Linked DNA regions of Homo sapiens: region 1 is linked to region 2. Evidence: fine-mapped expression QTL. A gene starts in region 2. The other region holds a variant in brackets. All regions are shown on one strand. Distances are between the middles of the regions.

The links. PIP is the estimated chance that this variant, and not a neighbour inherited with it, causes the effect.
Region 1: its variant is fine-mapped to the expression of NUFIP1 in prefrontal cortex (BrainSeq, PIP 0.95).

Annotation. Positions count from the first base shown.
Region 1 is chr13:44,953,632-44,959,014 of GRCh38, reverse strand. All of the region lies in intron 7 of NUFIP1 (nuclear FMR1 interacting protein 1), which reads left to right. Among named protein-coding and RNA genes, the nearest start is that of NUFIP1, 33 kb to the left of the region's middle. The variant T/CTTTTT (reference allele first, on the strand shown) is at 2,857.
Region 2 is chr13:44,986,129-44,991,511 of GRCh38, reverse strand. It overlaps NUFIP1 (nuclear FMR1 interacting protein 1), which reads left to right and starts at 2,041. Exons shown (of 10, transcript NM_012345.3): 1 at 2,041-2,487. The coding sequence starts at 2,076. It overlaps GPALPP1 (GPALPP motifs containing 1), which reads right to left and starts at 1,974. Exons shown (of 8, transcript NM_018559.5): 1 at 1,770-1,974. The coding sequence starts at 1,857. RefSeq lists enhancers at 1,228-1,864, 1,791-1,980, 2,171-2,240, 1,865-2,503.

The sequences.
Region 1 (5,383 bases), 32 kb after region 2:
GGAAGTCAGTATACTTTATGCTACTGAGCATGAGCATGATCTCTGGGCAAAAAATACTAATTCATTATGTTTGATCAGTACTGTTCTTCAGAGCATAGATTATATTTATATATGTTTGTCCTTGAATTTCCTCTAAAACATATAGGGCAAGTTAACTTGCTTATTAGTTGAAAAATAAAAGCATTAAAATGCTGGTGTCACATACAGATATCATTTAGCCTTTGAGACTCCATTTCTCTTCCTGAAAAATGAAATGTGTATGTAAATATTTTTACTACATTTTTCTCCAGTAACATTGTGAGGCTTTATCTAATTGCATATGCTTTGTACTGCAAAGGAATACCCAAAGATTATTAGTGAGTGAATTGACATTAGTGACATTGTAGATTTGATTGTAGGCTGTTTAGCTTGGATGATGTTGGCTTCTATGATAATCACATGGCAAGTTTTTGAACTTACGAGTGGCAAGAAAAGAGAGGATAACTAATTCGTTGACTGAATTAGGATGGAAAAAGATCATTGCATAAGGGAACATTAGGCTAAGTAGAAGATAAAATTTAATAACATTAATGATGATATATTAATATCAACTAACACTGAATAAGGCACTTACTGAGCTCTATATGCTTTATATAGATGAAGTCTTCTTATGACAGCCTTTTACACATATACCGTTACTGTTACCATTTTAGAAATGAGGAACATAGAGACTAAGTATGTTTATGCCATTGAAAGTAATAGTAAAAAATGCAGTTACTTTTGCATCAACCTAATAGTTTATCTTAGTCATTCTGCTCATTAGTGGCAGAATGAGAATTTGAACATATGAGTCTCACTCCACCAGTACACTACACATCCTCTAAATATGAAGTCTGAATTTGTATAAAAAAATATTGTTTGAGTCTAGGATAGTTGAGATGTGAGAGAGAGCAAGAAAAAGGCAGATGATATTTTGAGCCAGTGCTGAGTGTACTCTTGGGCACTGATTTTTTGTTTGTTTTCTTTCAAAAAATTTTAGAGAGAGCTCACATGCTTCTTCAGACTTGTAATGTGTGGCCTTGATGACAAAAGACCATCTGTACTCAAATATAAGCTTTTATGTCATTAAAACACTTAAAACACAAATGTGAAGACTACCATTATAATCAGTAAGTTACTAATTTGAAAATTATGTAAATCTTTTACTTTGTGCAATTTTCTAAATGAACACTTGAAGGACTCTAAGACCGATATTGGATAGTCTTTGTTGTTCTTCATTTTGTTAACTTAGCTTTGGTAGATGGTTAATTCTGTTTTCCCTTTTTATTTAAAAAAAAAAAGTATTTCAGTATATACTAATCTGGTAAAACACCAACTAAAAGACGATTGTATCTTGCTTCTATTTAAGCTTGTCTTAGTCCTCAGTAGATGCCTTAGACATGAGAAACAGTGGTAAATCCTCTCATCCTTATTGGTAGAAATAATTCAGTTGGATTCTGAGGAGCAGTTGAAAGAGAGATCTCAGGCTGGGCATGGTGGCTCACGCCTGTAATTGCAGCACTTTGGGAAGCTGAGGCAGGTGGATCAACTGAAGTCAGGAGTTCACGACTAGCCTGGCCAATATGATGAAACCCTGTCTCTACTAAAAATACAAAAATTAGCCGGGTGTGATGGTGCATGCCTGTAATCCCAGCTACTCGGGAGGCTGAGGCAGGAGAATTGCTTGAACCCCCGAGGTGGAGGTTGCAGTGAGTTGAGATCACACCATTGCGCTCCAGCCTGGGCAACAAGAGCAAAACTCGGTCTCAAAAAAGAAAAAAGAAAGAGAAATCTCAAATAATTTTGTTTTGGTTTAAATGTTGAAACCCTTACCTATAATGAGGGTCAAGGATGGGAACATGCCTATTTCGAGTGTCAAAGATGAGAACCTGTATCTTGAATATAAAAATTACCCATATAGACTACAAATTTATAATTTTGAATATTTAAAAATTTATTAATTTTTATAATATTGTATTATAACCAAGGAAATCACAATGCCAATGATCAAATTATGGTAGCTTAAGTTTGTAGGAAAGCTGTCATTTAAATTCACCTTATCCTTTACCTGGGATTTCCTCTGGACTTTGACATTTTCCAAATCTGTTTTAGACCAGGGGTTCTTAACCCCTGGGCACAGACTGGTACCTGGTACAGTTCCTTAGCCTGTTAGGAACCCCAGGGGGGAGCGGGGATGGGGAGGCGGGGAGCAGCGAGCAAGCATGGCTTCATCTGTATTTACACATTCCCTATTGCCTGCCTTACTACCTGTGAGCTCCGCCTCCTGTCAGATCAGCAGCAGCATTAGATTCTCATAGGAGCGTGAACCCTATTGTGAACTGTGCACGTGAGGGATTTAGGTTGTGTGCTTCTTATGAGAATCTAATGCCTGATTATCTGTCACTGTCTCCCATCATCCCAAGATGGGACTGTCTAGTTGCAGGAAAACAGCTCAGGGCTCCTACTGATTCTACATTATGGTGCATTGTACAATTATTTTATATATTACAATGTAATAGTAATATAAAGTACACAGTAAGTGTAATGTGCTGAATCATCCTGAAACCATCCCCAATCCACCCCCCACCCTCTGTCTTTGGAAAAATTGTCTTCCACAAAACTGGTCCCTCGTGCCAGAAAGGCTGGGGACCGTTGTTTTAGGCCATAGGTTCTTTAACTTTTCACTGCAGGTATAGCTACAGACAATCTATCCCCGTTTTCATATGTCCTAAGTCAGGCTTGTCCAAACCATGGCCCATGGACTGCATGCAGCCAAGGATGGCTTTGAATGCAGCCCAACAAAAATTTGTAAACTTCCTTAAAATATGAGATTCTTTT[T/CTTTTT]TTTTTTTTTTTTTTTTGAGACGGAGTCTCGCTGTCGCCCAGGCTGGAGTGCAGTGGCGCAATCTCGGCTCACTGCAGGCTCTGCCCCCTGGGGTTCACACCATTCTCCTGCCTCAGCCTCCCGAGTAGCTGGGACTACAGGCGCCCGCCACCTCGCCCGGCTAATTTTTTGTATTTTTAGTAGAGACGGGGTTTCACCGTGTTAGCCAGGATGGTCTCGATCTCCTGACCTCGTGATCCACCCGCCTCGGCCTCCCAAAGTGCTGGGATTACAGGCGTGAGCCACCGCGCCCGGCCAAAATATGAGATTCTTTTGTGTGATTTTTTTTTTTTTTAAGCTCATCAGCTGTTCTTAGTATATTTTATGTGTGGCCCAAGACAGTTCTTCCAATGCGGCCCAGGGAGGCCAAAAGATTGGACACCCCTGCCGTAAATATTCTCCACTCTCCAATATATGTTTTCCACTTGTTTGGAGGCAGCTTCTCTTACCTTGGGCAAGAGCCAGCCAACCTTAAAATCTGGTTATTCAAGTTGTCAGTGGCAGGCCAGCGGCCAGCACTGTGATAACAAGACCCACTGTTCTCATATGGCAGTTGATACTTTTCAGCACTAAGCTCACTTTAATAATAAAGCTCTCCCTATTGCTTCCATTTTTTGCCTTTTTCTGGCTCAGAACTTAATCCAGACATCAGCACTCACATTTTAAACAAGACTCAAGTTCTAGAGGATCTTCATAACTTTCAGATCATGCTTGGAAAATCATTGCCTGGGTTCACCTTTTCTGTATTGTATTTGGTGCCATGTGTACTCTCAGTAATTGTGCAGCTACTTTGAATTGAGAATTGACATTGTTTTGATGGGAAAGCCTTTTATTTAAAGAAGTCTCCCAATTTATCAGTTTTGAGTGTGGCTTATTGTCTGTCATTAGATTTCCTTACTAGCATATTTTTTTATTTCCTTGTGTATTCTGCTGACTGGCCTAACTTAAGGATTGTTTTTTCTTTGTTTATTTTGGTATCTCATTAGTTAGCATCCAGTTCATTTTGTTGCCATTGTTTAAAATATATATGCAACAAGTTTATGGCTTTCCTAGCCTGTAGTTTTAAACAGTAAGTCAGTTGTCTCAGCTAGGAAGAAAGTGGGTCAGTAAGGTAGCATTGAGCATCTGTGACTGAAGTGCCTCAGCATCCACAAGACAAAGGCAACCCAACTTATTAGTCATTTGTTGAAATACAGCTATTGTCGTAGAACACTGGGACGTAAGTCTAACTATGCACTCACGTAACCTAGGTTGTTTTAAAGGTAGGCATTAAAATAAGAAAATAAACTGGCCCAGCACATCAGGTGTCATGGATACCCACTGGTAACTGTCTTCTTTGAGAGCTGGAGACTATAAAGCAAAGTCCCTATTTTTGAGGGTGACTTTGAAAATATATTGCATTTTTTAAAGAATACTTAATTGCAAATCTTGGGCTAGAGCATATAATTGTGCTTTGCTCCATAAAGGCAATAGGAAATCGTGGGATGGGGGTTGGTGGGCAGGGGGTACGGATAAGTAAGTAAAGAAATAAGTTACAGGAAGAAGCCAGATAGGAAGCTTTTACAGTTGGTGTTTAGAGCGGACAAGGCATTCAAAGGGCAATGTTATTTTGCTACTTTCCTTTCAGTGGGGATTTATAAGGTCCTGCGTTTGGCTTACCCAGCACTGTAATCCACTATAATGCCGAGGATTTCAAAGGAGTCTCCCTGCCTTCCAGAAACTCATAGTCTAAGAATAATTTTTAGATCATTGCATTAGATTTTTTTAGGGGGGGATGGTGGGAACATGATGTGTGTATACGAGAGAGGTGAGATTTACCCTAAGAAAAGTGTCGCTAATGTTTTAATGGTAAAAGAAATTGTTTGAGCTCGTATTTTATAAAAATGCTAAAGTCTGGTTCTGTCAGATCAATTGCTGCTATCTCTATGCTGGTATTTTCAGTTTAGAAAGATGTTTTAGCTGTTTTTATAAAATGAAGTTTCTTGAGTATTATTTTGTCAGCCAGTACAATGCCTTCAGCATAGTCTTTACCTATAGGTGCTAAAAATGCCTGCATTAGAACTACTAGGTAGATCCCAGGGACTTTTCTTTCTTTCTTTCTTTCTTTTTAAGATGAAAAGTTACTGTAGGAGATGTTCTGAGAGTGCCAAAAGGACAGTATTTTTCAAAGTGTTATTACATATGGTTTGTCCCTTAAACATTTAACTGAGTGGAGAAGAAAAAATAGGGAAAGAGTTGTTTATTTGTGTGAATTTGTAACTTACCCTTTAGGTAAGTCAAGTATAGTGAGCTTTGACACTCCTAGGAACAAGTATACCTAGCACTCTAATTGTGGTTTCCAAATACTATTCTCCAGGTAAAGGAACCAGAGCCTGTTGGAGAAATGACTGATTCTGGGGTTGGGACAGGGAAAATATAAGCTGAACCTAGAGCATCTCATAGCGCCAGAAAGTAAGAAAATGCTAAAAAAATGTGAAGATGTGGGTA
Region 2 (5,383 bases):
ATTGTGCTTGACGAAGAGAAGTCATTCAACAAATATATACGAAGAATCTTTTTCTTTTTTTTTTTTGAGACAGAGTCTCACTCTGTCGCCAGGCTGGAGTGCAGTGGCGCGATCTCGGCTCACCGCAACCTCCGCCTCCCAGGTTCAAGCAATTCTCCTGCCTCAGCCTCCCAAGTAGCTGGGACTACAGGTACGTGCCACCATGCCTGGCTAATTTTTGTATTTTTAGTAGAGACAGGGTTTCACCATGTTGGCCAGAATGGTCTCGATCTCTCGACCTCGTGATCCGCCCGCCTCGGCCTCCCAAAGCGCTGGGTTCACAGGCGTGAGCCACCGCACCTGGCCTTATTTTATTTTTTTAAAGCTATCTCCTACAGGAAGGAAAGCATAATTTTTCACATTTACTTTTATTTATTTATTTATTGAGACAAACTCTCGTTCCGTCGCCCAGGCTGGAGCGCAGTGGCACTCTCGGCTCACTGCAACCTCCGCCTCCTGGGTTCAAGCGATTCTCCTGCCTCAGCCTCCAGAGCAGCTGGGATTACAGGCGCCCGCCACCACGCCCGGCTAATTTTTGTATTTTTAGTAGAGATGGGGTTTCAACATGTTGGCCAGGCTGGTCTTGAACTCCTGAGTTCAAGTGATCCGCCCCGTCTCAGCCTCTCAAAGTGCTGAGATTACAGGCTTGTGCCACCTCGCTCAGCTGGAAGGCATAATTTTTAAAGTGGTTATGACAGAAATTATATTGGAAAGGGGCCTGTAGTAGAAACATAGCCTCCGGGTAGACCAGGAAGAAAAATTAGATTCAGAAATGGCAGGGTTACTCTTTCAGCTTTACTCTTCTCCAACTGGGTGTCGGTGCTAGTCTACAAATGTGAATAAACATTAAAGCAGATAGGTATGCATGCCGGAATCCGAGAAGCATTCGTTTCGTATATACCAAGTGCCTGTTGCGTGTTCAGGTAGAAGACCATAGTGCAATGGTGGAGACAGATTATGTCGACAAATTATTCAAATACAGTGTACTAAATATGCAATGTAATTAGGAAAAAACCCGAGGGCAAAAAGAAAGGCATGACAATGCTTCGGGGAATCTGGAAAGGTTTTATTGGTGTGACATTTAAGTTGGGCCTTGAAGGATGGGGAGAAGTTTGTCAGTTATGTTTAGGAATGCAACCAGAGGAAGCCCAGAAGCCTAGAGCGTTAAGGAATTGCGCAGCAACTCAGACTGGATTGAGTATTGGGCTGTGTTTGTCAGATGCAATAACAGAATGAGAGGCTAGGAAGGCAGGTCGGGGGCTGGAGAGAACAGGATCTGCAAGGTTCTTGTAATCAGAAGGCAATATGGCACAGAGGTTAAGAGAACCGCTTCCTTCTAAGTCGCGCTCCATCACTTGCTAGCAGTATGATCTAGACACTGGCATGGGCTTGGGCGTACCCATTTGCAACATGGGAAAATAGTTTTTTTCTTATACGGCTTAAATGACTGAGTGGGTATCAGTCAGTTAGGGCAGCGTGCAGCTCATATTAAGGCTAAATGAGAATGTATTATCATCACGAAGCCAAACCACGCCAAAGCTCGTTTCTAGGAGGGTCCCCCAGCCTCCTCCCCCCTGCTACTGTTTGGGAAGAGAAAAGTTCTCTCGGGTCAGGCCGCGCCCACTCCCCACTCCTCCGCCCTCCTAGGCCTCCGACTTTCTTCAGCGAGCAGGGCCCGGCCAGGGAGTGGGTAGATGGGCCTGGTGGGCAGCGGAGACGCCGCCGCTTACCAGGGCTCGGGTCCCGCTCTTCGTCCTCCGCTGTTCCGCGGGCCTTGAAGCCGGGCGGCAGGGCCGGTCCGATCAGGTCTCTTGCCATCCGCGGTGGCGGACACTGGTCACAGATATGAGTCTATCCACGAACGTCAACCCTATCCAAAAAGAATCCCGCGATCAGCAGCGAAGAATGGCAGGTTTCCCGGCGCCGAGAAATGACGTAAAGCCTGTGGTTGGCTGAGCCTTGTAGTTCACGGTAAAGGAAGTGACGCCTAATGCTTGCTCCACAGTCGCGTGCTAGACTCCGGACCCGCCAGTGGTATGGCTGAGCCGACTAGTGATTTCGAGACTCCTATCGGGTGGCATGCGTCTCCCGAGCTGACTCCCACGTTAGGGCCCCTGAGCGACACTGCCCCGCCGCGGGACAGCTGGATGTTCTGGGCAATGCTGCCGCCACCGCCACCACCACTTACGTCCTCGCTTCCCGCAGCCGGGTCAAAGCCTTCCTCTGAGTCGCAGCCCCCCATGGAGGCCCAGTCTCTCCCCGGGGCTCCGCCCCCCTTCGACGCCCAGATTCTTCCCGGGGCGCAACCCCCCTTCGACGCCCAGTCTCCCCTTGATTCTCAGCCTCAACCCAGCGGCCAGCCTTGGAATTTCCATGCTTCCACATCGTGGTATTGGAGACAGTCTTCTGATAGGTTTCCTCGGCATCAGAAGTCCTTCAACCCTGCAGGTAGGCTATTTTTCCACGTGAGTCGACCCCTTTACCTTTTTCCCCCGTTCTTTCCTCTCCCCTTTCTCTGCTTCCTCTCTCTACTCTGCCTTGCCTCTGCACTCTTGGAGTCTGGTCATTAGCATCTCAAAGCAAAGTGAGACCCCCGTCTCTACAAAAAAAATAAAATTAGCCAGGCATGGTGGCATGCCTGTGGTCGCAGATGCATGGGAGGCTGAGGCAGGAGGATTCCTTGAACCCAGGAAGTCGAGGCTGCTTTATCAACTAAGTTTATATAATATTGTAAATCCTTTGTTCTCAAAATATGTCTGACTAGAATGTTTTCCTGTTGACTGTTAATTCCATTTAGCAGTTATTTATTGAATTCCGACTATGTACCAGAATCTGGGTATATAGCAGTGAGCAGAACATACAAAAAATATTATGGAGCTTAATATTATCTCTCTTGTGTAGGAAGACAGACAATAAGCAAAATAAAATATTGTGCATTAGAAGGTTGAGTGGCATGGAGAGAGATAAAACAAAGAAGAATGGTAAGTAGTGCAGGATTTTCTTTTTTTCTTTTTTTTTGGAGACAGAGTGTCGCTCTGTCGCCCAGGCTGGAGTGAAGAGTAGCGCGATCTACTTCACTCCAGCCTATGCAGTCTCTGCAGAGAGGCTCACTGCAACCTCTGCCTCCCGAGTTCAAGCAATTCTCATGCCTCAAACTCCTGAGTAGCTGGGACTACAGGCCCACGCCACCACACCCGGCTAATTTTTTATATTTTTAGTAGAAAGGGGGTTGCCCCGTGTTGGACAGGCCTGTCTCTAACTCCTGAGCTCAGGCATCCGCCCGCCTCAGCCTCCCAAAGTGTTGGGATTACAGGCATGAGCCACCACGCCGGGCCAGGTAGTGCAGTTTTAAATGTCATTGTTAGTCATAAGGAAGGTGACATATGAGCGAAGACTTTAGGGAGGTGAGAGATCACAGCCATGCATACAACTGGGAGAATAGGGGTACGGGCAGAAGGAACTGCAAGTGCAAAGGTCTTGAGGCTTAGAAGCTATACATCAGAATGGGAACCAGTGTGGCTACAGAGGACTGAGTCTGGAGTATAATTGTAGAAGATGGGGGAGGAGGGTAAGACCTGGTATGTCTTTGTAGATCGTGGGACTTTGACTTTTACTGTTGTGAGGTGGGTAGTACAGCGGATTGACATGACCTGATTTACGTTTTAAGAGGATTAATGTGTCTGTTGGTGAGAACTGACTGAAAGGGAAACCGGTTAGGAAGCTATTGTAGTTACTTTTCTAAACAAGAGATATTGGAGACTTGGACCAGGGTGAAGCCCAAGGGATGGTGAGAAGTAGTTGGATTCTAGATCTGGGGATACCTTGGAGCTCTTGTGGGTTCAGTTACAGACCACTGCAGTAAAGCAAGTCACACAATTATTTTTTTTTTGGTTTTCCGTTGCATGTAAAAGTATGTTTTCCTGCAGATCCTATGGGGCAAAAAAGTTATTTTTACATTATACCATAGTCTAGTAAGTGTGCAATACCATTATGTCTTAAAAAACAACTTACATACCTTGATTAAAAAATACTTTAGGCTGAGCAGGGTAGCTCACACCTATAATCTGGGCACTTTATTTATTTTTTTTTTTAATTTGTTGAGACAGAGTCTCTGTTGCTCAGGCTGGAGTGCAATGGCGTGATCTTGGCTCATTGCAACCTCCACCTCCCAGGTTGAGGTGATTCTCCTGCCTCAGCCTCCCGAGCAGCTGGTACTACAGGTGCCCGCCACCATGCCTGGCTAATTTTTGTATTTTTAGTAGAGACAAGGTTTCACCATGTTGGCCAGGCTTATCTCGAACTCCTGACCTCAAGTGATCCATCCTCCTTGGCCTCCGAAAAGTGCTGAGATTACAAGCGTGAGCCACTGCACCCAGCCTAATCTTAGCACTTTGAGAGGCAGAGGCAAGAGGATTGCTTGAGCCCAGGAGTTTGAGACCTGCCTGGGCAACAAAGTGAGACCCCCGTCTCTACAAAAAAAATAAAATTAGCCAGGCGTGGTGGAATGCCTGTGGTCCTAGAAGCATGGGAGGCTGAGGCAGGAGGATTCCTTGAGCCCAGGAAGTCGAGGCTACTTTATCAACTAAGTTTATATAATATTATAAATCCTTTGTTGTCATTTCAACAGTGTTCACAGCATCTTCACCAGGAGTAGATTCCTTCTCAAAAAAGCACTTTCTTTCCTCATCCATAAGAAGCCACTTCTCATCCATTAAAGGTTTACCATGAGATTGCAGCAAGTCACATCTTGTGGCTCCACTTCTTTTTTTTTTTTTTTTTTTGAGATGGAGTCTTGCTCTGTTGCCCAGGCTGGAGTGCAGTGGCTCGATCTTGGCTCATTGCAAGCTCTGCCTCCCAGGTTCACGCCGTTCTCCTGCCTCAGCCTCCCTAGTAGCTGGGACTACAGGCGCCCACCACCACGCCCGGCTGATTTTTTTGTATTTTTAGTAGAGATGGGGTTTCACCATGTTAGCCAGGATGGTCTCGATCGCCTGACCTCGTGATCCACCCACCTCAGCCTCCCAAAGTGTTGGGATTATAGGCGTGAGCCACTGCGCCTGGCCCCTCCACTTCTAATTGTAGTTCTCTTGCAGTTTCTACTACATCTGAGGTGACTTCCTCCACTGAAGTCTTGAATTCCTCAAAATCGTCTATGAGGGTTGGAATTTCTTCTTTCAAACTCCTGTTAATGTTGATCTTTTGACCTCCTTCCATAAATCATGAATGTTCTTAATGGTATCTTGAATAGTGAATCAAAACCTCCTTTCTAGAAGGTTTTTAATCTACTTTGCTCAGATCCATTAGAGGAATCACTATCTATGAATCACTGTGGATTTCTTTCAAG